3 linked regions of the Homo sapiens genome follow. The protein of the gene in region 3 purifies or fractionates together with the protein of the main gene of each other region. This does not show direct contact. Each region holds a gene or a part of one and is shown on either strand. Other genes may lie near its edges.

Region 1 (7,498 bases), on a different chromosome or scaffold from region 3:
CCAGGCTGGAGTGCAGTGGCATGAAATCGGCTCACTGCAGCCTCCGCCTCGCCGGTTCAAATGATTCTCCTGCCTCAGCCTCCTGAGTAGCTGGGATTACAGGTGCCTGCCCCCGCACCCGGCTAATTTTTGTATTTTTAGTAGAGATGGTTTTGCCATGTTGGCCAGGCTGGTTTCAAATTCCTGAGCTCAAGTGATCCACCTGCCTTGGCCTCCCAGAGTGCTGGGATTACAGGCGTGAGCCACCATACCTGGCCAGCTTTGACAGCAGAAATCTTCTCTCTAGAAATATTCATATACATAAGGAATTTTGCACACATCCTTACAGGGTTTAGGGAGCCTCTTAAGCCTGTCCATGAACCTCTGCCATTCATTTATAGCATGGTGTCAGCTGCAGAGTAATAGGATCTATGTGGGCCTGGAAGTCCAACAGGCCTGGGTTTGAATCTTTTTCAAACATTTTTGCTTGTTAGCAGCTGGTTTGGACAAATAATTTCAACTTAGTTTTCTCATCTGTGAAACAGGGGGAAAAAGCACTTACCCTGTAGGGCTGTTGTGAAGATTGAACAAGACAACTCATGTTAAATACCCAGGCACCGTGTCCGCCTGCAGCAGGCAGTCAGTACATGGTGGATCTCGTGCCCCAAGCCTCCTCTTTATGGAGTCCCTCAACTTGCCCCAGCTGGCCTCGGATTCCTCCCACCTCCACCTCCTGGGTAGCTGGGACTATAGCACGCCATGCTTCAGCCCCCTTTGTGATCATTCAAAGCCGTTTGGTTCCCTGCACCCTCTCACATTTACTGCAATTCCTATAGAATCCAAATTCTTTTAACCTGGTGTTGTAGGTCATCTACAATCCTGATCCAAGCAGCCTGTCCCTTCTCCCACACCACTGTCCTCCACATGCATGTCCCACACCAACCCACGCCATCCGCTGGTTCTAAATACACCTGAAGCACCACAAGGCCCCACGTCTGGCTGCCTGCTCTGTGCTTCTCTCATCATTCCTCAAGGCCCGGGGAAAGTCCTGCCACCTCCCTGAAGCCAAGTGCCTACCCGCTTCTCCACTCTAGGCTGCTGTCTTACGCTGTGTGTCCCCAGCTGGATGGCAGCTCCTCAGGGCAAGGAACAATTTCTCTTCTTTCTCAGTGCAACTTCCAAAACACAGCAGAGGAGCGTGCACTGGGGGCCAAGGCTGGCACAGCAAACACAGCAGCACAGGGCTGCTGGAGGGGTGGAGGGGACCAGAGGGGACAGTGACCTGCCTGCTTCATGATACATGGCTGGGAGCCCCACCTTTTGCCTATGGAAGGCATGTGCTTTGAGCTTGATTTTCTCGGGTGTAGAGTGTCTACGCCACCCACACTTTCTCACCCGGTCCAATGCACGGGCACGGGCAGGGGCAGGGCCAGAATCTGTTGCTGTAGAACACAGCAGAGCTGCCTGCACTACTGTGGACGTCACCAAACTGGCAGCTTCACTGAAGGTGACCCTGGCCTGTGTGGGCACTCAGCTGATGCCCTTTTCTTCCCTCCTAAGCCCCATTAGCTTTAGGTCTCCACCACCTGCACTGAGAGAAAGATTAATGGTGAGCACCAGAGTAAAATCTAGCACAGAAGGCAGGGTTTCAGTAAAAAACCAAAAGCACGGCGGATTAGAGCTCAAGGGCCCACAGGTGGGCAGGACAGTAGAGGAACTGGGCAGCCCAGGGTGGCAGGATGGGGTGGACAGGAGTGGACAGGAGAGAGTAGCCAGGAGGAGGGACGTGGCTGCACCGCCAGTCCACGTGGGCGGCTGGAGACCTGGCAGGAGGCCAGGAGAGACTGTGCCTCCTCCAGCCTGGCTGTCTTGGCCAAGTTCTGACGGCAGCCAGGAGGAATGTGACAAAGAAAACAAGACAAACTTTGCTACCTCTGGCTGGTCAGGGGAAGTTTGTGTTGGAAAAGAAGAAGCCACAGATTCCACTGTTCCGCTGCCTTCTCCCCTCACACCCTGGGACGGCCCAGCACCTTCTAGTCCACTCCTCCCTGCCCTCTGCCACTCCCCTCATTACCCCAGTGCCCCCTCCCTCCTTGCCCAGGTCCTCCAGGGAGCCAAGCCTGAGAGTCTAGGGAGGCCCACAGGAGGAAATGATGTTCGGAAAGAGCAGCATCACTTTATTTTTTGAGACGGAGTTTCCCTTTTGTCACCCAGGCTGGAGTGCAATGGTGCAATCTTGGCTCACTGCAACCTCTGCCTCCAGGGTTCAAGTGATTCTCCTGCCTCAGCCTCCCGAGTAGCAGGGATTACAGGCGCCCACCACCACGCCTGGCTAATTTTTTTTGTATTTTTGGTAGAGACGGGGTTTCGCCATGTTGGCCAGGCTGATCTCGAACTCCTGGCCTCAAGTGATCCGCCCGCATCGGCCTCCCATAGTGCTGGGATTACAAGCGTGAGCCACCGTGCCCAGCCGAGCAGCATCACTTTAAATGGTATCTCTGTCTCACATTTGTGCCTGCACCTCTATACAAGGCAGGAAGGGAGCAGAAGACACTCTGCTAGCATTGGCTGGGCTGGAGACTCAGGAAAGGGAGCCTGGGGCTGTGGGGGTGAAGCTGGCCTATTTGTCTCCCCCAGTGGAAGGATGAAGACAGGAGCACCTGCAGGGCTCCATTTGCTGGGCTTCCTACTGGGGGACTGCACCCCTTGTCCCATTTAACCTTTTTGATAATTTCCCATTTGATGTTCACAAAAACCTTGTGAAATAAGTGTTATTTAAAATACCCCCATTTCACAGATGAGGAGATGGAAGTTCAGAAAGGTTTGAAGAGCCGCCCAAAGCCAAGAGGTTAGCTGGGACTTGAACCCACGTCATCTTCATTCTGAAGCCAGTGTTTTTTGTTTGTTTGTTTTTCCCAAGGCATTAGCCCCCTTCAGGGGACCCTGTCCTATCCCTTCCTCTCTCCACAGCTCCCTCAGCCCCTCTTTCCTCCCACTCCCATTCTGAGTGTCACTAGCAAGTCAAGAGCAAGACTAGATGGCAGCCACTAGCTGCACGTGGCCAACCACATCATTACAATTAATTAAAATTAAAGCTCCAAATCTTTGGTGGTTAAACTTGCTCCATGTGGCCAGTGGCTACCGTATCGGACAGCACAGACAGGAAACATTTCCATCCTCCTGCTGGTCTGAACTTAAAGGGCGGTCAGGAGGTAGAGGGAATGGGAGAGACCAGGCCAAGGGGCCCAGGGACAGAGCTGCCTTTGTGAGGAGATGAGGTTTGGGAAGTGAGTTTGGGTGAGGGGAGCAGGGGTGTCTGAGGCCTGGGGGAGGAGAGGGCAGCTTGCTGGACTCCCAGGCACCTCCCTCCGATACTGATACTCCCGCAATACTAGTGAGCAATTAATTGGCTGGGGCGGGGCAGGGGCCAGAGCAGGAGGGAGGCCAACGCAATGGAGGAGAAGCCACCACCCTCTCAGCAGATGGCAGGGCTCCGGTTCTCCTGGCCTCCTTTCATCCTTTGAGGACCCGGGAGCCTGCCTGGCCCTCCTCGACCTGCCCAGAGCTGGCTGCTGCTTCCTGCTCGCTCATCCAGCCCAGGGCCAGCAGATGGGCTATGGGGCCACCACCTTCCCAATTAGCCTTCTTAGCCTCTTGCTCACCCTTGAGGTCTGGGTTACCAGCCATGGGGAGGGGCTGTGAGTGCCCTGTGAGTAACCAAGGCCCAGCTTTGACAGAGGTCATCAGCCCAGGCCCCTCCCCTGGCTGAGCCCTGGCTCCCAGCACCCCCCCACCCCCGCCACCATGCCGTCCCCAGAGGCCCCCAGAAGCGACAGGTCAGGGAGTTGGTTTTGGGAATGTGGTGCCCCATTTCTGAGAAGGAGAAAGTTCCCCAGGTGATGGAACACGTAATAGGTATGTGGCTGGCCTGGTACTTGGGGAGTGGTGGGAGGGGGAGCCTGGGGGATGGGGGCAGAACTCATATTTGAAGGAGGAAAGTGGAGGTGGAGTGATGGGGTCCTAAGGAAGGAGCAGATCAGGGGCTGTGAATGGGACCTCATTGGGGTTGGGTGGGTGGGGCTGGAGCGGGCACCCAAGTGTGGAAGAAAAAGCTGAAACACCCACGACTGCGAGTGGAGGGCAGATGGAGAGACAGGCCAAGCTACGGTAGGCAGGAGAGTTAAGGAGCCAGGCAGCTGGGTCCCGTGGCAAGAGTGGCCGCCCCAGAGTGGGTGGCCGTGGGGCAGAGCGCCTGGTTCCGGGTTAGGCAATGAGGAGCCGGGGCCAGGCCTGTCAGGTGGCAGGATCGTTAGAGCCCCGTGGCCATGGGTACCCCACACTGCAGCCACTGCTGCTGCTGAGTAGGCAGATGCACCGGGCTGATTACCACGCTCCTCCCGGCCACACCAACTTCCCCTGGGGCACCCACCCCCTCCACCTCTCCTCCTCTCCCCACAGTGACTCCTGCCCAGGGAATGTCCAGCTCTGGCATAAAGGACCCGGGTGTCCTTGAGCTGCCATCAGTCAGGAGGCCGTGCAGTCCGAGATGGGCTCGTCTCGGGCACCCTGGATGGGGCGTGTGGGTGGGCACGGGATGATGGCACTGCTGCTGGCTGGTCTCCTCCTGCCAGGTAGGAGGCTGGGGGCCCTGGGAACAGGAGGGAGGCGGGAGGGAGACTCCGGGAGAGGACCCAGCGAAGGGGACAGGCAGGGGCTCTGGAATCTGCCTTTTGAGTCTGGGGGTTGCTCCTCACTGTATGGTCGCCTCAGGTAAGTTTCTTAAACTTCCTGAGCCCCAGTTTCTGAAACTCTGAAGTGGGGTTAATGACACCTAACTCTAGTCTGTGTGTCTCAAATTAAATAATGTATGTGATATGTACTTTGGAAATTCTAGAGGTTTATATAAATGGTGGTGGTGATTTTTATTATGGGAGCACTACAAGATAATGATTGGACATTTAATAGTAATAATATCATTTTTAGAGCCTTTTTATATGCTAGACTCTGTTTTAAGCACATTTGGATTATATATTAGAACTTTTATTTTTATTTTTTTTTGTGAGATGGAGTCCCACTCTGTCTCCAAGGCTGGAGTGCAGTGGCGTAATCTCGGCTCACTGCAACTTCCACCTCTCAGGTTCAAGCGACTCTCATGCCTCAGCCTCTAGAGTAGCTGGGACTACAGGTGCCCATCACCACACCTGGCTAATTTTCTTTTTTTTGTATTTTTAGTAGAAACAGGGTTTCACCATTTTGGTCAAGCTGGTCTTGAACTCCTGACTCAAGTGATCCGCTCGCCTCAGCCTCCCAAGGTGCTGGGATTACAGGCATGAGCCACCACACCCGGCCTATATTAGCACTTTTGATCATTACAAGAACGGTATGAAAGGAGATTTGCTATTTCCACTCTACAGATGAGGACACTGAGGCTCAGAGAAGTTAGGAAAGTAGCTCAAGATCATGCATTAGAAGGCAGCAAAGCCAAGATTTCAACCCCAGGCCGGGCAACCCCTGGACCTGTGTTGTTGACCACCGGGTACTTATAGCCCTTGAGGAATTTCTGCGACCTTCCCATGGTCTAGTGGGTGGTTGGTGTCTGAGGGAATAGCGAAAGAGAGAGGCAATGCATGGTGGATTCGTGCAGAGGACTGAAGGGAATTGGCACAGCTGGGGTTCGGCGTGGAGGTGCATGCAGAGAATTTCTTTCTGAGGAGAGAACAGGGACATCACAGAGGATGGCAGTCTGGTTGTTGGTGGAGGGATCAGGATGAGTGGCAGTAATAATTCATAATATATAATGCTTTACACTTTCTAAAACATCTGGCCGCACATGATAGCTTGTGCCTGTAATCCCAACATTTCAGGAGGCCAAGGCAGGTGAATCGCCTGAGGTTAGGAGTTCAAGACCAGCCTGGCCAAGATGGTGAAACCCCCTCTCTACTAAAAATACAAAAAATTAGCTGGGTGTGGTGGCGGGCACCTGTGGTCCCAGCTACTTGGGAGGCTGAGGCAGGAGAATCGCTTGCACCAAGGAGGCAGAGGTTACAGTGAGCTGAGACCGTGTTATTGCACTTTAGCCTGGGCAACAAGAAACTCCATCTCACAAAAAAAAAAAAAAAAAAGAAGAAGAAGAAAAAACTTCCAGGTGGATGATCTCATTTAGTTTTCTTCATAGTAATGCTGTGGGAAGGCAGGGAAAATTTGGCCCCTCTGAATGTATAAACTAAAGCTCAGAGAGGTTCAGTAACTTGCTAGTATGTGGCTCTGTTTGTAACACGTGGGACCTGGAGGGGCTAGGGAAGGCAGAAGGAACGCAGGTGAAAGAGTCATGGAGGAACCACGGGGTAAGTTGGGCCTGGGGTTTTGAGCAAAGGAAAGGAAAGATAAGGAAAGATGTGGCTCCACATCCCTGAGGGAAGTCAAGGCAGCAGAAGTCAGATGAGGGGCTGGACAGAGGCAGGTGTGCTCAGAGAGGGAAGCTGATTGTGGCCAGGAGCCTCGGAGGTTCGTGGGGTTTCGTCCTGGTTCCCTGGGCTGGGCCAGCGAGAGCAGGGCTGGCTCAGGGTGCGGTGTCCTGACACACTGGTACCAGCAGGTTCTGAAGCAACAGGTAGTGACCCCACATCCTGGCCCCCACCCAGCTTTACTGGCATGGCCAGTGCTGAGATAGGAAATAGGGTTTCCATTCCTGACCCCAGCCTGGGCTCTCACGAAGAAGCTGGTGACCAAATCTTAGTCCTCGAGTGCCCTTTCCTTTATTTCAGCCCCTCTGCCCCCAGCTTTGTCTTTTTCCAGTGTCTCCTTCTATATGTGTCTCCACTTCTCAGCCCTCCATTGTTTTGCCTTTTGTCTTCTTCCCTTTGGTCCCACTGTCTGGCCCAGGATTTTTCCCCTAAGAATTTACGCCTGGACTCCTCAGAGCCTCAGTTTCCCCAATTCTCTGTCTCTTCAGGGTCCTTTCTTTTAGACCTACTTGTTCCTGCCCCTTCTCCATTCCCTCTTCTTTTTAAAAAAAATTTTAATTAAAAAACAAAATACAGACGGGGTCTATGTTGCCCAGGCTGGTCTTGAACTCTGGGGCGCATGCAATCCTCCCACCTCGGCCTCCCAAAGTGCTGGGATTACCGGCGTGAGCCACTGTGCCCAGCCCCCTCTTATATTCAATGTATTCCTTTGAGGCCACTCACTTTGGCACCTAATTTTCTATTTTTCTGGTTGGTGTTTGCCCACCCTTCCCAAACAAAGAAATGCCTTTATTCGGCCACCTCAATATCCTTTAGAGACAATAGCCAGTTCTTCCTCCTTTCTCCATCCCTAAACTCTCCCTGCGCTCTGCTTGGGAGAAACCCGAGAGGCCGATGACTGAGATAAGGCAGAAAGGTGAGGGAGGAAGCCAAGCCTCCTTGGCCCTTACTAACCACTGCTTTCCTCCACAGGGACCTTGGCTAAGAGCATTGGCACCTTCTCAGACCCTTGTAAGGACCCCACGCGTATCACCTCCCCTAACGACCCCTGCCTC
Region 2 (7,029 bases), on a different chromosome or scaffold from region 3:
CCTGCTCCCCAGTGTCTGCCCAGCCCACTGCCTGCACTCAGTCCCTGTCCCCATGGCCCCCAGGTGATCTGGAGTACCAGATGTCCACAACAGCCAGGGCCAAACGGGTGCGGGAGGCCATGTGCCCTGGTGTGTCAGGCGAGGACAGCTCGCTTCTGCTGGCCACCCAGGTGGAGGGGCAGGCCACCAACCTGCAGCGACTGGCCGAGCCGTCCCAGCTGCTCAAGTCGGCCATTGTGCATCTCATCAACTACCAGGACGATGCCGAGCTGGCCACTCGCGCCCTGCCCGAGCTCACCAAACTGCTCAACGACGAGGACCCGGTCTGTGAGGGTCCCTGCTAGGGTGGGGGCTGGGCAGGGAGGGGAGAGAGCAGATGTCCTCAGGGGAGGGACATTGTAGGGGTGGAGGGAGGTTATGACCCAGACTCTCCCGTGTGTGATGAGTCTGACTGGGGCCCTCCTCAGCTCTGTGGAAGGGTATCCCGGCCTCTCCTTAGTGCTCACGTCCCCGCCCCTGCCTTTGCCCTCCAGGTGGTGGTGACCAAGGCGGCCATGATTGTGAACCAGCTGTCGAAGAAGGAGGCGTCGCGGCGGGCCCTGATGGGCTCGCCCCAGCTGGTGGCCGCTGTCGTGCGTACCATGCAGAATACCAGCGACCTGGACACAGCCCGCTGCACCACCAGCATCCTGCACAACCTCTCCCACCACCGGGAGGGGCTGCTCGCCATCTTCAAGTCGGGTGGCATCCCTGCTCTGGTCCGCATGCTCAGGTACCCAACCCTGCTCACTGCATGAGCCCAGGACCCCCTCTCACTTGGGCCTCTCCCCTCCCTTCCCTGAGCTTCCATAAATATCCAGTGAGCACCTACTATGTGCCAGGCAGAAGCACACCCCATCCGGGTGCTCGGTGGCTCACAGCCCAGCAGGGAACACAGGCATGTAAACAGCAGGTTAATGATCAGGATACGACACAGGCTATGGCAGAAGAGCATTGAGATTGCTCAAAGGTGGAATCGCTTAATGGCAGGGGATTGACAGATGAGTGGAGTTTGGCTAGTGCAGAGGAAGGGAAGAGTGTCCCAGGCAGAGGGAACAGCAAATGCAAAGTCCCTTGCAAACTTTCTGTTTCCTGGCCCCCTACAAAATGTGGATTGGCCTCATTTCTTTTTTTTTTTTTGAGATGAGGCCTTGCTCTGTCACCCAAGCTGGAGTGCAGTGGCGTGATCTCAGCTCACTGCAGCCTCCACCTCCTGGGTTCGAATGATTCTCCTGCCTCAGTCTCCTGAGTAGCTGGGATTACAAGCATCTGCCACCATACCTAGCTATTTTTTTTTGTTTTGAGATGGAGTTTTCCTCCTGTTGCCCAGGCTGGAGTGCAATGGCACAGTCTCGGCTTACTGCAACCTCTGCCTCCCGGGTTCAAGAGATTCTCCTGCCTCAGCCTCCCAAGTAGCAGGGATTACAGGCACCCACGACCATGCCTGGCTAATTTTTGTATTTTTAGTAAAAATGGGGTTTCACCATGTTGGCCAGGCTAGTCTTGAACTCCTGACCTCAGGTGATCTGCCCCCCTTGGCCTCCCAAAGTGCTGGGATTATAGGCGTCTGCCACCATGCCCAGCTCAATTTTGTATTTTTAGTAGAGACGGGGTTTCACCACGTTGGCCAGGCTGGTTTCGAACTCCTAACCTCAGGGTGATCCACCTGCCTCAGCCTCCCCAAGCGCTGAGTTTACAGACGTGAGCCACTGCTCCTGGCCTTATTTCTCATTCCCATACCAGGCTGGAAGCTCCCTGAAGGGGAGACACTGATTTCACTCCCCTCTGAACGCCTTGCAAGGCCTCTCTAATATGTGGCCTTCCACATGGTGGTTACTTAGTAGGGATCAGTGTCTAGGGGACCTACTGTGCGCTCAGCACAGGGCTGGGGACTCAGAAGCAGGAGGAGTCATTGTCCCAGTTGGGAGAAGAGAGGTGCTGTTTGCTTCATGCTTAAGAGCAGGGCAGGCTCAAGGAGTGATGAGATTTTAGCAAAGGGATATTTCCAGAGGGGCGTCAGTAGCGGGGAGGCTTCCTGGGGGAGGTGGGAACCCATGCCAGGCTCACATGTATGCCAGGCCTCTGGGACCTCAGCGTACTAACCCCTGCCCACCCCCCCAGCTCCCCTGTGGAGTCGGTCCTGTTCTATGCCATCACCACGCTGCACAACCTGCTCCTGTACCAGGAGGGCGCCAAGATGGCCGTGCGCCTGGCCGACGGGCTGCAAAAGATGGTGCCCCTGCTCAACAAGAACAACCCCAAGTTCCTGGCCATCACCACCGACTGCCTGCAGCTCCTGGCCTACGGCAACCAGGAGAGCAAGGTGGGCCCTCCCCAACTCTCCCGAGGCCTGAAGCCCACCCTTGCGCCATCTTCTATCCTGCACAGCCTTGGGCCGCTGCCCCCTTACTCCTTTTAGATGAGATATAGGTGCAGATATACATGCTTCATCATGCGACTGAATTGCCCAGAATTATTATTTTGAGGATAAGGGAAAAAAAAAATCACTCATCCTCATATAGCCACTATTGTCATTTCGATGTGCTTCCTTAAGAGCTGTTCTGTGGGCAGATTACAGATGTGTACACATCCTTGTCATCATAACAATCTGCAATATTGCATCTGTTTTCTGCCTGATTTTTTTTTTTTTTTTTTGAGACAGGGTCTCACTCTGTCACACAGGCTAGAGTGCAGTGGTGTAATCAGGGCTCACTGCAGCCTTGACTTCCTGGGCTCAGATGATCCTCCTACCTCAGCCTCCAGAGTAGCTGGGACTTCAGGCGTGTGCTACCACGCCCGACTAATTTTTTTTTTCCTTTTCTTTTCTTTCTTTTTTTTTTTTTGTTTGAGATGGAGTCTCACTTTGTCGCCCAGGCAGGAGTGCAATGGCACGATCTCGGCTCACTGCAACCTTCGCCTCCCGGGTTCAAGCGATTCTCCTGCTTCAGCCTCCCAAGTAGCTAGGATTACAGGTGCCCGCCACCACACCCAGCTAATTTTTGTATTTTTAGTAGAGACAAGGTTTCACCACATTGGCCAGGCTGGTCTCGAACTCTTGACCTTAGGTTGTCCATCTGCCTCGGCCTCATAAAATGCTGGGATTACAGGCATGAGACACCGTGCCCCACCCCCAACTAATTTTTTATAGAGATGGGATTTCTCCATGTTGCCCAGGCTGGTCTCAAACTCCTGGGCTCAAGTGATCTGCCTGCCTTGGCCTCCCAAAGTATCAGGATTACAGGTGTGAGCCACTGTGCCTGGCCTGTATGATGTTTAAAAAAAATTTTTTTTTGCTATATTGTCCTCAAAACCACCCTCTAATAATGACAGATTGCCTTTCCTTTCCCCTTTCCCCCTCCCCTTTCCTTTTTCCTTTTCCTTTTCCTTTTCCTTTCCCTCTCTTCCTCTCTTTCTTCCTTCCTTCCCATTCTTTCCTTTTCTTTCTTTTTTGAGACAGGGTCTCACTGTGTTACCCAGGCTAGAGTGCAGTGGCATGATCCTAGCTCACTGCATCCTCAAACTCCTGAGCTCAAGCATTCCTCCCATCTTAGTCTTCCTGATAGCTAGGACTATGAGAACATACTACTGAGCTAATTAGCACCCGGGCTAAGTTTTAAATTTTTTGTGGGGATGGTGTCTTGCTCTGTTGCCCAGGCTACCCTCAAGGAATCCTCCTGCTTCAGCCTCCGAAATGCTGGGATTAAAGTCATGGGCCACCATACCCAGCCTACAGATAGCATTTCATTAAGTGGAGACCTCAGGCTTTATTCTGAGGGAGGGTATTTAGATTGCTCCTATTCCACCTTTATAAACAATGCTGTAATGAATGTCTAGCCTTTGTCAAAGAGCGGAAAAAATTCTCATCAATTTTTAACACTTCTAGGCTTTTCCCCAAATGGCCAGATTGATTTCCAGAAGGACTGGACTAATTTCCAGTGCCATAACTGGTAATGGGTGTGCATATAGTTTTGTCATGTCCTTGTCAGCACTGGGTATTATCCTTTTTTCAAAATTTTGGCTTACATAACAGTCATGAAACTATTGGGGTGGGCTGGGTGTGGTGGTTCACGCCTGTAATCCCAGCACTTTGGGAGGCAGAGGCGGGTGAATTGCCTGAGGTCAGGAGTTTGAAACCAGCCTGGCCAACATAGTGAAACCCTGTCTCTACCAAAAACTACAGAAATTAGCCGGGCGTGATGGCACACGCCTGTAATCCCAGCTACTTGGGAGGCTGAGGCATGAGAATTGCTTGAACCCGGGAGGCGGAGGTTGTAGTGACCTGAGATCGTGCCACTGCACTCCAGCCTGGGTGACAGAGCGAGACTCTATCTCAAAAAAAAAAACAAAAAAACTTATTGGGGTGCTTGGCTGGGTGTGGTGGCTCACATCTGTAATCCCAGCACTTTGGGAGGCTGAGGTGTGAGGATCACTTGAGGCCAGGAGTTCTAGACCAGCCTGGGCAGCATAGTGAGACCCCCATCTTTATAAAAAGAAAAAAATACATTAAAAGAAAAAAACGAACTATTCGTGCTTTAGCTGAAGCTCAGTAATGACAGTTCTGTCTCCTGTCCCGCGCTTCCTTGTTCCTGTCATATTCCCCGTCCATCTCACACTCATTCCCTCTTTACCCATAGCTGATCATCCTGGCCAATGGTGGGCCCCAGGCCCTCGTGCAGATCATGCGTAACTACAGTTATGAAAAGCTGCTCTGGACCACCAGTCGTGTGCTCAAGGTGCTATCCGTGTGTCCCAGCAATAAGCCTGCCATTGTGGAGGCTGGTGAGTATGATGGCCTTGAGGGCGGCTGGGGTGGGAGCTCTGCCCAGCTGCCAGGCTCAGTCAGCCATGCTCCCCGTGGCTGATGGCACCCCTATCCCTGCCCCAGGTGGGATGCAGGCCCTGGGCAAGCACCTGACCAGCAACAGCCCCCGCCTGGTGCAGAACTGCCTGTGGACCCTGCGCAACCTCTCAGATGTGGCCACCAAGCAGGTGAGGGAGGTATCTGGGCCTGGGGTTGACCTCTTCAGCTGCCCCATCCAGCCTCCTGTCTGGGCATCTGACCTGAGGTACTGTGGGAGGACTGGGGGCTCTAAATCTCTCTTCCTTGTGACTGAGGCTGGAAATGCCTTGAAAACCCTCATCTCTTTTTTTTTTTTTTTTTTTTTTTCTGACGGAGTCTCACTCTGTCACCTAGGCTGGAGTGCAGTGGTGCAATCTCGGCTCACTGCAAGCTCCGCCTCCTGGGCTCAAGTGATTCTCCTGCCTCAGCCTCCCGAGTAGTTGGGACTACAGGCACCTGCCATCATGTCTGGCTAATTTTTGTATTTTTATTAGAGACAGGGTTTCACCATGTTGGGCAGGCTGGTCTTGAACTCCTGACCTCAGGTGATCCACCCGCCTTGGCCTCCCAAAGTGCTGGGATTACAGGCGTGAGCCACCACATCCAGCAAAAGAACAGTTTTGACCTGGGCCCTGGGCTGGAGCAATAGTGTACCAAGAGACAGGCCCCCATGACTAAAAATACAATTTAAGGAAAAATGCAGCTCCAGGGCAAGTGCCCTGTGCCTCCTTCCAACAACCATTCCCCAGGCCTCCCCTAGCAATATGCTGTTTATCAAGTGCTCACCCTGTGCTGGCCCTCTGCGTGGCATTTGTGGACAGTAGCTCATTCAACCTGGGGTTAGAGTGTGGGACCCTGTGGGTTAGATGAAGACACTGAGGCTCGGGGAGCTAATGGCCATGGTCACAGGTAGTAAATGGCAGAACTGGGATTTGAACCCAGGACTGTCCGTCCCCAAAGCTGGGGTTTTTCTGTTCCACCACAAGGCCCACGTGTCTCCCTGGGAGAAGTGAGATAGACGTCTGAGGTAGTGATTTTACTGGAAATGGATTTGGCTCAGGGCCCCAGGGTGGTGGGGCAGCAGTGAAGGCCCAGAAAGGTGACAAGCGAGTAGACATGGCTCAGCTGGGCCACTGAATCATGCGGCCCCCTCAACAATTGCCTCCTGGTCTCGAGGCCTCCCTTGGCCACCGTACTTTGGCCTGAGGAGGGTTCTGCCTGGGTCTGAGGGCCCCAGGGAAAGGCTGATGAGTTGGAGGGAAGAGATGTGGGGCTTAGAGCCAAGCCTGGGTTCAGATCCAGCCACTAGCTGTGTGTCTGTGGGCAAGTTCCCCAACCTCTCTGAGCCTCATTGCCTCACTTGCACCACAGGATAGTAACGCCCTCTCACAGGGTGTGGCGGGTCATAGGGATGAAAGTTCCCGGGCACACACAGGCAGGGCTGACCCCTTTAGGTCATCCCACTCCCCTTGGACATATTCGAGAAGGCTCCCTGGAGTTGGCTGCTCCCTGACTCCCCCGTCCCTTCCTTGCCCTCCAGGAGGGCCTGGAGAGTGTGCTGAAGATTCTGGTGAATCAGCTGAGTGTGGATGACGTCAACGTCCTCACCTGTGCCACGGGCACACTCTCCAACCTGACATGCAACAACAGCAAGAACAAGACGCTGGTGACACAGAACAGCGGTGTGGAGGCTCTCATCCATGCCATCCTGCGTGCTGGTGACAAGGACGACATCACGGAGCCTGCCGTCTGCGCTCTGCGCCACCTCACTAGCCGCCACCCTGAGGCCGAGATGGCCCAGAACTCTGTGCGTCTCAACTATGGCATCCCAGCCATCGTGAAGCTGCTCAACCAGCCCAACCAGTGGCCACTGGTCAAGGTACTGCTGTTAGGCGAGGGGAAGGAGCTCCCTGCAGCAGGCTTAGGTGCTGTATTGGTATAGGCAAAGCCGCTGTAGCAAAGAAGCCCTAAATACAGTGGCTCGAATAAGACAGAAGTTTATTTCTCTCTCGTGTAATAGTTTAGACCTCAACAATGGCTCTGCTCTAAAATTCCAGAATTGGGATTTCTATCTTGTAGCTCTACCAGCCCCTAGGGCAGAGCTCAGAGTTCAAAATGCACATGAGTACCCTGGGTGGTTTCATTAAATT
Region 3 (5,476 bases):
TGCCTATGCCTGTGGAAGATATCCCCGGGCTGTGTGGGGGTGTGCACCCAGCCCCCGTGGCACACCACTGCTGCCCAAAGCAATCTCTGTACCAGGGATCCAGACTGGCCACCAATCCCTATACTTATGTCCCCAGCAACATTTATCAACCATTCTCCCAATCTCCCTTCCCTGCTCTCCTCTGATCACTCCTCCAGTACTAGAACCAGGAAGTTCTCCCCCACATGGTAGAGAAAGTGATCCAGGAGATGGGAAGCAACCATGGTCACGAAATGAGTAGGCAGCAGGCTAGGTTCCACTCACTGGAACTCCCAGGCCATCTGACACCGGACAGTCAGGTAACTGGAGGAAATCCAAAATGAAAATCTAGGCCTCAGGAGTGCATCCATAACAGTTCAGAAAAGAGGACAGAGAGGAGATGAGAGAGGAACTAAAGGGGGTGACTACCCCAACTCCAGGCCCAACCTTCAAGTCTTGGATCTTGATTCTTAATGAAAAAAACTCAGTCTGATTGTTTTAAATAATAAAACTCAGGATATTTTAATTGGACATTAGCACAAAGTTTTGATAATTAATGTAAATGAACCTTGTCTACAAAGCGAAGCATGCCTGCTGGTGAGCCACACAGATACTGCTCCTTCAGATTGAGGTTGTACATGCCCCCAAAGGCTCGCTTCATTGCTACGATTCTCTACTTAAATCCACATTCACAGCTATTGCCTCAGACCCTCTGGAGGAGGGGCCAGGGGTTAGCTGGCTTTGAATAGCATGTAGAGCACAGGCAGTGTGGCCACAAATGTCACACAGGTGACCAGGGTGCTATAGATGGTGTTCCTGTTGACTTGGGCTTCTAGTCTCTGCTCCGTGTCTGACAGTGCCAAGATCATGCTCCCCTGCTCCAGCAAGAAGCTGGGCATAGCCCCGTCTGCTGGTTCCACCAGGCCTGGGTGTGCTGCAGACTTTACAAGCTGAACCACCCCAGCCATTTGGCTACAAGTCTTTTCTAGGCCATCAAGCTGCTCTCGTAAGCCTTCTAGACATGAATGGACTTGCCTGGAATGACTAAGCTGCTCTTTCAAGGCAGCTGAAAGGACATCTACATCTCTGTCTCTGGTCGGGGGACTACCTGCCTGTGACCCAGAGTCCTGCCCTGGCCCAGCAGCATGTACCAGGCCCCTCAGGTCCACCATGAGATTGTGGAGGTCCCTCTGCTGGCGGGAGTAGCTAGACGCCTGTTCTCGAATGGCCTCTTGGAGACTCACAGGCCCCTTCTGCGCCTCCAGGAGTAAAGCCTTCAGCTCCTGTAGTCGCACACGGTTCACATAGGTGGAGCCAGCCACACCAATCAGGGCCCCCAGGACTGAGCCAATGAGGGACCAGTTCTTGGTCCTCTCAGCCCTTGTGCGCTCCTTCTCATGACTTTCCCGCACAGCTGCAGAGAAGAGGGAGAACTTCTCTCGCTCAGAGTCTTCTGCACGCAGATAGGCTGTGCGAAGCCTCTTCTCCTCCTGCAGAAGCAAAGCCATGTTATTGGATTACATGGGCACAAGGTGGCCCTGCAGCTATAGCCACCAGCAGATGGCTCACTACCTTGTGCCTGGCAGAGTACATGTTCCATAGACCCATGCTGAATGAATGAAGGTAGCACCAACCTGGCTGGGTCAGAAGGGCAAAGGAATTGGGAGTGATCAAAGTGAGTTGCATGATCGTCCCACCTGAGCAGTTCTGGGTTTGACCAGAGGTGCACTTATGTCTACACAAAGGGAAGTGTCCAGCACTCCCTAGGCCAGCCCCTCCATAGTTCTCCTTCCTCAGCATTCTGAGTCCCAGGCTACGCTGCCCTGAAGAGTTGGCCCCAGTACTCCAGAAGAAAGTATATGGATAGACTCTGGAAGCTTGGGGTTCTGTCCATCCATAGGAGCTTCTGGCTCACCTCTGTACCAGGCCTCTGACTACAGACCAGTCAGGGTTCCCACCCGGCCCCTCCATGATCTGCCAGGCTAGGGTCACTGTCCAGGTGCGAAAGGGCTGCCTCCTGAGGTGCCTACCTGCAGCATCCTGTGCTCGAGAGTAGCCAGTTCCAAGTACTGACTGTCCTCCCTGGAGACACGGTCCAAGCGGTCCCTCACCTCCTTCAGCTTGGCCTGGTGAACTTCCAAGTCCTCCCGAGCCTCTCGGACAAGCCCTCGAGCCACCATGAACACTTTCTCAGCCTGCAAAGAGAAAACCGGAGGCCATCTGCACCTTCTCTCCACACCCACACAGGCTCAGCTGCATTCCCAGCAAGGCATTCCCAGAAGAGGTCACTGGGGTGTGAGCTGCAAAGGGTGGAAACGGAATTCCTTAGACACTAATCCTGGCTCACCCAGTGGTGCTCAAAGTGCAGCCTTGGGCCACACCCATCAGAATCACGAGATTTAGCCATTCAAGCAGAAATAACATGCCCCTGAAAAAACTTGAAAACAGCTAACAATGCACACAATTTGTGTCCATCAAACCTGTGTTGGTAGGCTGTTTCCCGTGTGTTGCCTTATTTATGCCTTATAACAATGCCATGAAAGGCACTGCTGTGGCCTCCAGTTTATAAACCCAGAAACACCAGCTCAGCCAAGCTCACAATCTCCAAGGAAAGAGATGGCACTGTTTGTCTCAAAGTCCCAGCTGAACCCCAGGTTCTTCCCACCACGCTACACTACTACATGCCTAAGCAGGAGTGGGAACAGAGATGACAGAATGCATTTCTGCCACCACAAAGGACTTGACAACCACCACCAGCTCTTTCCACCTCACACTGTGACATTTCCTAGTGCCCTCTATCTTCACAAAAGATGTTGTAATTACACACAGTAACAGTACCGCAGCAAGCCCCACGTAACTCTCACCATCAATCCCCAAATGGTCCACAAAGGAAGTATTTGCTGGCCTCACAGAGTGGATGTTAGTGGCCAGGGACTTACTGGTACACAGTAACTGTTTTCGGGGAAAGTAGGTGGCACAGTTACATGGAGACCTTCACCCCAGAAGCATCAAGCCCAGGTTTCCACGTGAGAAATGAGGCTAAACACAAGTCTGGATGTGGCTACCCAGCACCACGTGACTGGTTTGGCACATTTCCCAAGTCAGAGGGCGGGGCCAGCCACCCCAGCTCCCCTCCTCACCTCTGTCACCTTTCCCTGGGCCTCTCGAACCTCGTTGAGTCCAACAAACTCTTCATATCTGTCCCACCAAGTCTTGGCTGTGGAGGTCGCTCGTTGCTGAATGCTGTGCCCCAGGGCTCTTCCCAGTGCTGGGAGGCGGTGGTGCAGCCCCAGGGCCACCTCCTCAGGTCTTTTCTCTCCGGGCTGGCTTGGGCCTGGGCTGCAGAGAGTCCTGGTCATGAAGAGGTCCCTTCCAAGGAGGCCCCTCCGAACCAGTACGTGGGGCACACCCACGATGTGCTGCATGGCAAACCCAGGGCTGCGCCCCATCATCCTGAGATCTGTGAGGGGGACGCCAGACAGGTCAGCTCACAGCTGAGAAAGGCTGGACATAAGTCAGTTTTGAGGCCTAGGGACAGTTCTGAACAGACTAATCCCCACTCAAATCATCTAAACTGAGCACCACCCTGTTGGGCCCAGAGACTGTGGCCCCTGTGGCAAGAGGATGGTCAGGCTCTCCTCTGGGTGCTCTTGGACAATGGAACACAGTTGGGGACGAGCCTCTAGGATGCCATACCTTCCAGTGCCCGCCACCATGCCACACAAAGCGGACCCTTCCCTGCTACCCACTTCCCTACATCCTCCAGGTCTCTCTGCTGTGACTTGAATGAGAATCCTGGTGCCCAGGTTTCTGATGTCAAAGACAGTTTTTAAACCAGACTTGTACACATGCTGACAAAGCCCCACAAAGACGCATAAATACTCCCTGCAATGTTGTGGAACTCAGGGGAATTCAGGAAGACTAAGATCCAGGATCATTTCTGTAAAACAGCCTCAAAACCAACTCCCCAGACTCTCCAAGGACTGCCTCAGCACAAGGGAAGCAGAGTTTCAATTCTGTGCAAGGACCTAAGGACACAGGCCATTTGTGACCCAAGACAGAAAACTCTCAGCTCTCCTCTAAGATAATTCCAGGGGCAAAAAAAAACAAAACAAAACTGTTTTTGCCACAGAGGACTTTTCTTAGGTTCACGCCATACAACTCCGCCCCCAGACTTTCCAGGCTACCAACTCTCAGTCTCACACTTCACGACTTCCATAAGCTTTCTCTTTCCTCTCCAACCTGCCATTGCTCAACAGGTTAGGTTTCTCTCATCTTTCCCTTTTCCATCTTGCTTTGATGTTTGGGCCTGCTTCTCATTACCTGGACAGCAGGGAGTCTCCTGTTATCCAGAATCAGGCCTCACCTGAGCCCAAGAGTGCCAGTGACTCTGAGGACCCCAAAGAGGTGGCCAGGTGACCCATTTTCCCAGAAAAAGCTGAGCCAACAGCACCCTCCTCTGGCCAAACCACACCTCAAAGTCCCTAAGCACTGATCCTGGCTGTGAGAGCGACACCTGGTGGCCAACAGACCACGCCACAGAGAGAAAAGCAGAGGGAGCTGCAGACAGGAAGGAACTGAAGGAGCTCCAGATACAGAATAGAAAGGGGCTTCCTGATGGAAGGTGATATGAGACAGAGGCTCCCCACAGCACCCTAGCCTCCTCTCCATCATGCTGTGCTAAGAACTGTCTTTGGAGAAGCTCAGCGGCTTTGAAAACACAGCTGGTTGGGTAGAAACATGTCTTCTGGGCAAAGTGGGCCTGAGCTGAGAGCCGCAGAAGGGAACTTCACTGTGACAGTGATCCCAAGCTGGTGCCACACCCAAACCCCTGGGCCCCCTTCATAAGGCTGGGTTCCATGCCCATGAGGGTGCATACCATCCAGGCCCCAGCAGCCCAGTCAGACTCCCAGGCCTCAAGGCCAGCACCCATGACACACAGGCTGAGATCCTATAACACCCCTGCAGGTGTATCCTTCATCAGACAAAGCATGCAGTGTCCGCCATGGCTGGCACCACTTTCAACACCCTCTCTTCCCAACATCACTGCCCCTCTTGGCTTCCTCCAACCTTCTCAGCCTCCTTTCCCAGCACCTCCTCTACTAGCTGCCCATTTTTAGACCCCAGCAAAGTCACCCATTCCTGGCAGAGATGACAGCTACTGTCTCCTATGCAATCTCGGCTTTCTCCCCTGCCGTCCCCCACCCCCATGTTCTGCACATGGCAGCCCAAGGCCCTGTAACACAAAAATCAGATTACATCCCTCTGATCAAAATCCCCCAACAGCTCCCATTTCACCTGGCGGTGGCCAAGAAATCCTGAGACCTCTCAGCCCTCATCCTCTTCCTTCTACTGCCATACTCTGCTCCAGCCACCGTGCTGGTCTGTGCCCTGCCACCTTGTCCAGCTGGATGACTCTTCCTCCACGAGTCTACTCGGCTCACCCCGACATCTTCAT

The links.
Region 1: the proteins of CCDC51 (region 3) and CDSN purify together in Homo sapiens (affinity purification with mass spectrometry; 3 studies listed by BioGRID and IntAct, with this or other methods). This does not show direct contact.
Region 2: the proteins of CCDC51 (region 3) and JUP purify together in Homo sapiens (affinity purification with mass spectrometry; 3 studies listed by BioGRID and IntAct, with this or other methods). This does not show direct contact.

Annotation. Positions count from the first base shown.
Region 1 is NC_000006.12:31,117,447-31,124,944, reverse strand, and holds the start of CDSN (corneodesmosin precursor), read left to right. Parts: upstream 1-4,498; 5' UTR 4,499-4,525; coding exon 4,526-4,610; intron 4,611-7,415; coding exon 7,416-7,498. UniProt on the Homo sapiens protein: Important for the epidermal barrier integrity.
Region 2 is NC_000017.11:41,762,712-41,769,740, reverse strand, and holds part of JUP (junction plakoglobin), read left to right. Parts: intron 1-63; coding exon 64-323; intron 324-533; coding exon 534-772; intron 773-2,160; coding exon 2,161-2,362; intron 2,363-4,673; coding exon 4,674-4,818; intron 4,819-4,924; coding exon 4,925-5,028; intron 5,029-6,419; coding exon 6,420-6,758; intron 6,759-7,029. UniProt on the Homo sapiens protein: Common junctional plaque protein. The membrane-associated plaques are architectural elements in an important strategic position to influence the arrangement and function of both the cytoskeleton and the cells within the tissue.
Region 3 is NC_000003.12:48,431,659-48,437,134, forward strand, and holds the end of CCDC51 (mitochondrial potassium channel), read right to left. Parts: intron 3,479-5,476; 5' UTR 3,471-3,478; coding exon 3,159-3,470; intron 2,319-3,158; exon of another isoform or gene 2,214-2,318; coding exon 2,049-2,213; intron 1,509-2,048; coding exon 750-1,508; 3' UTR 515-749; downstream 1-514.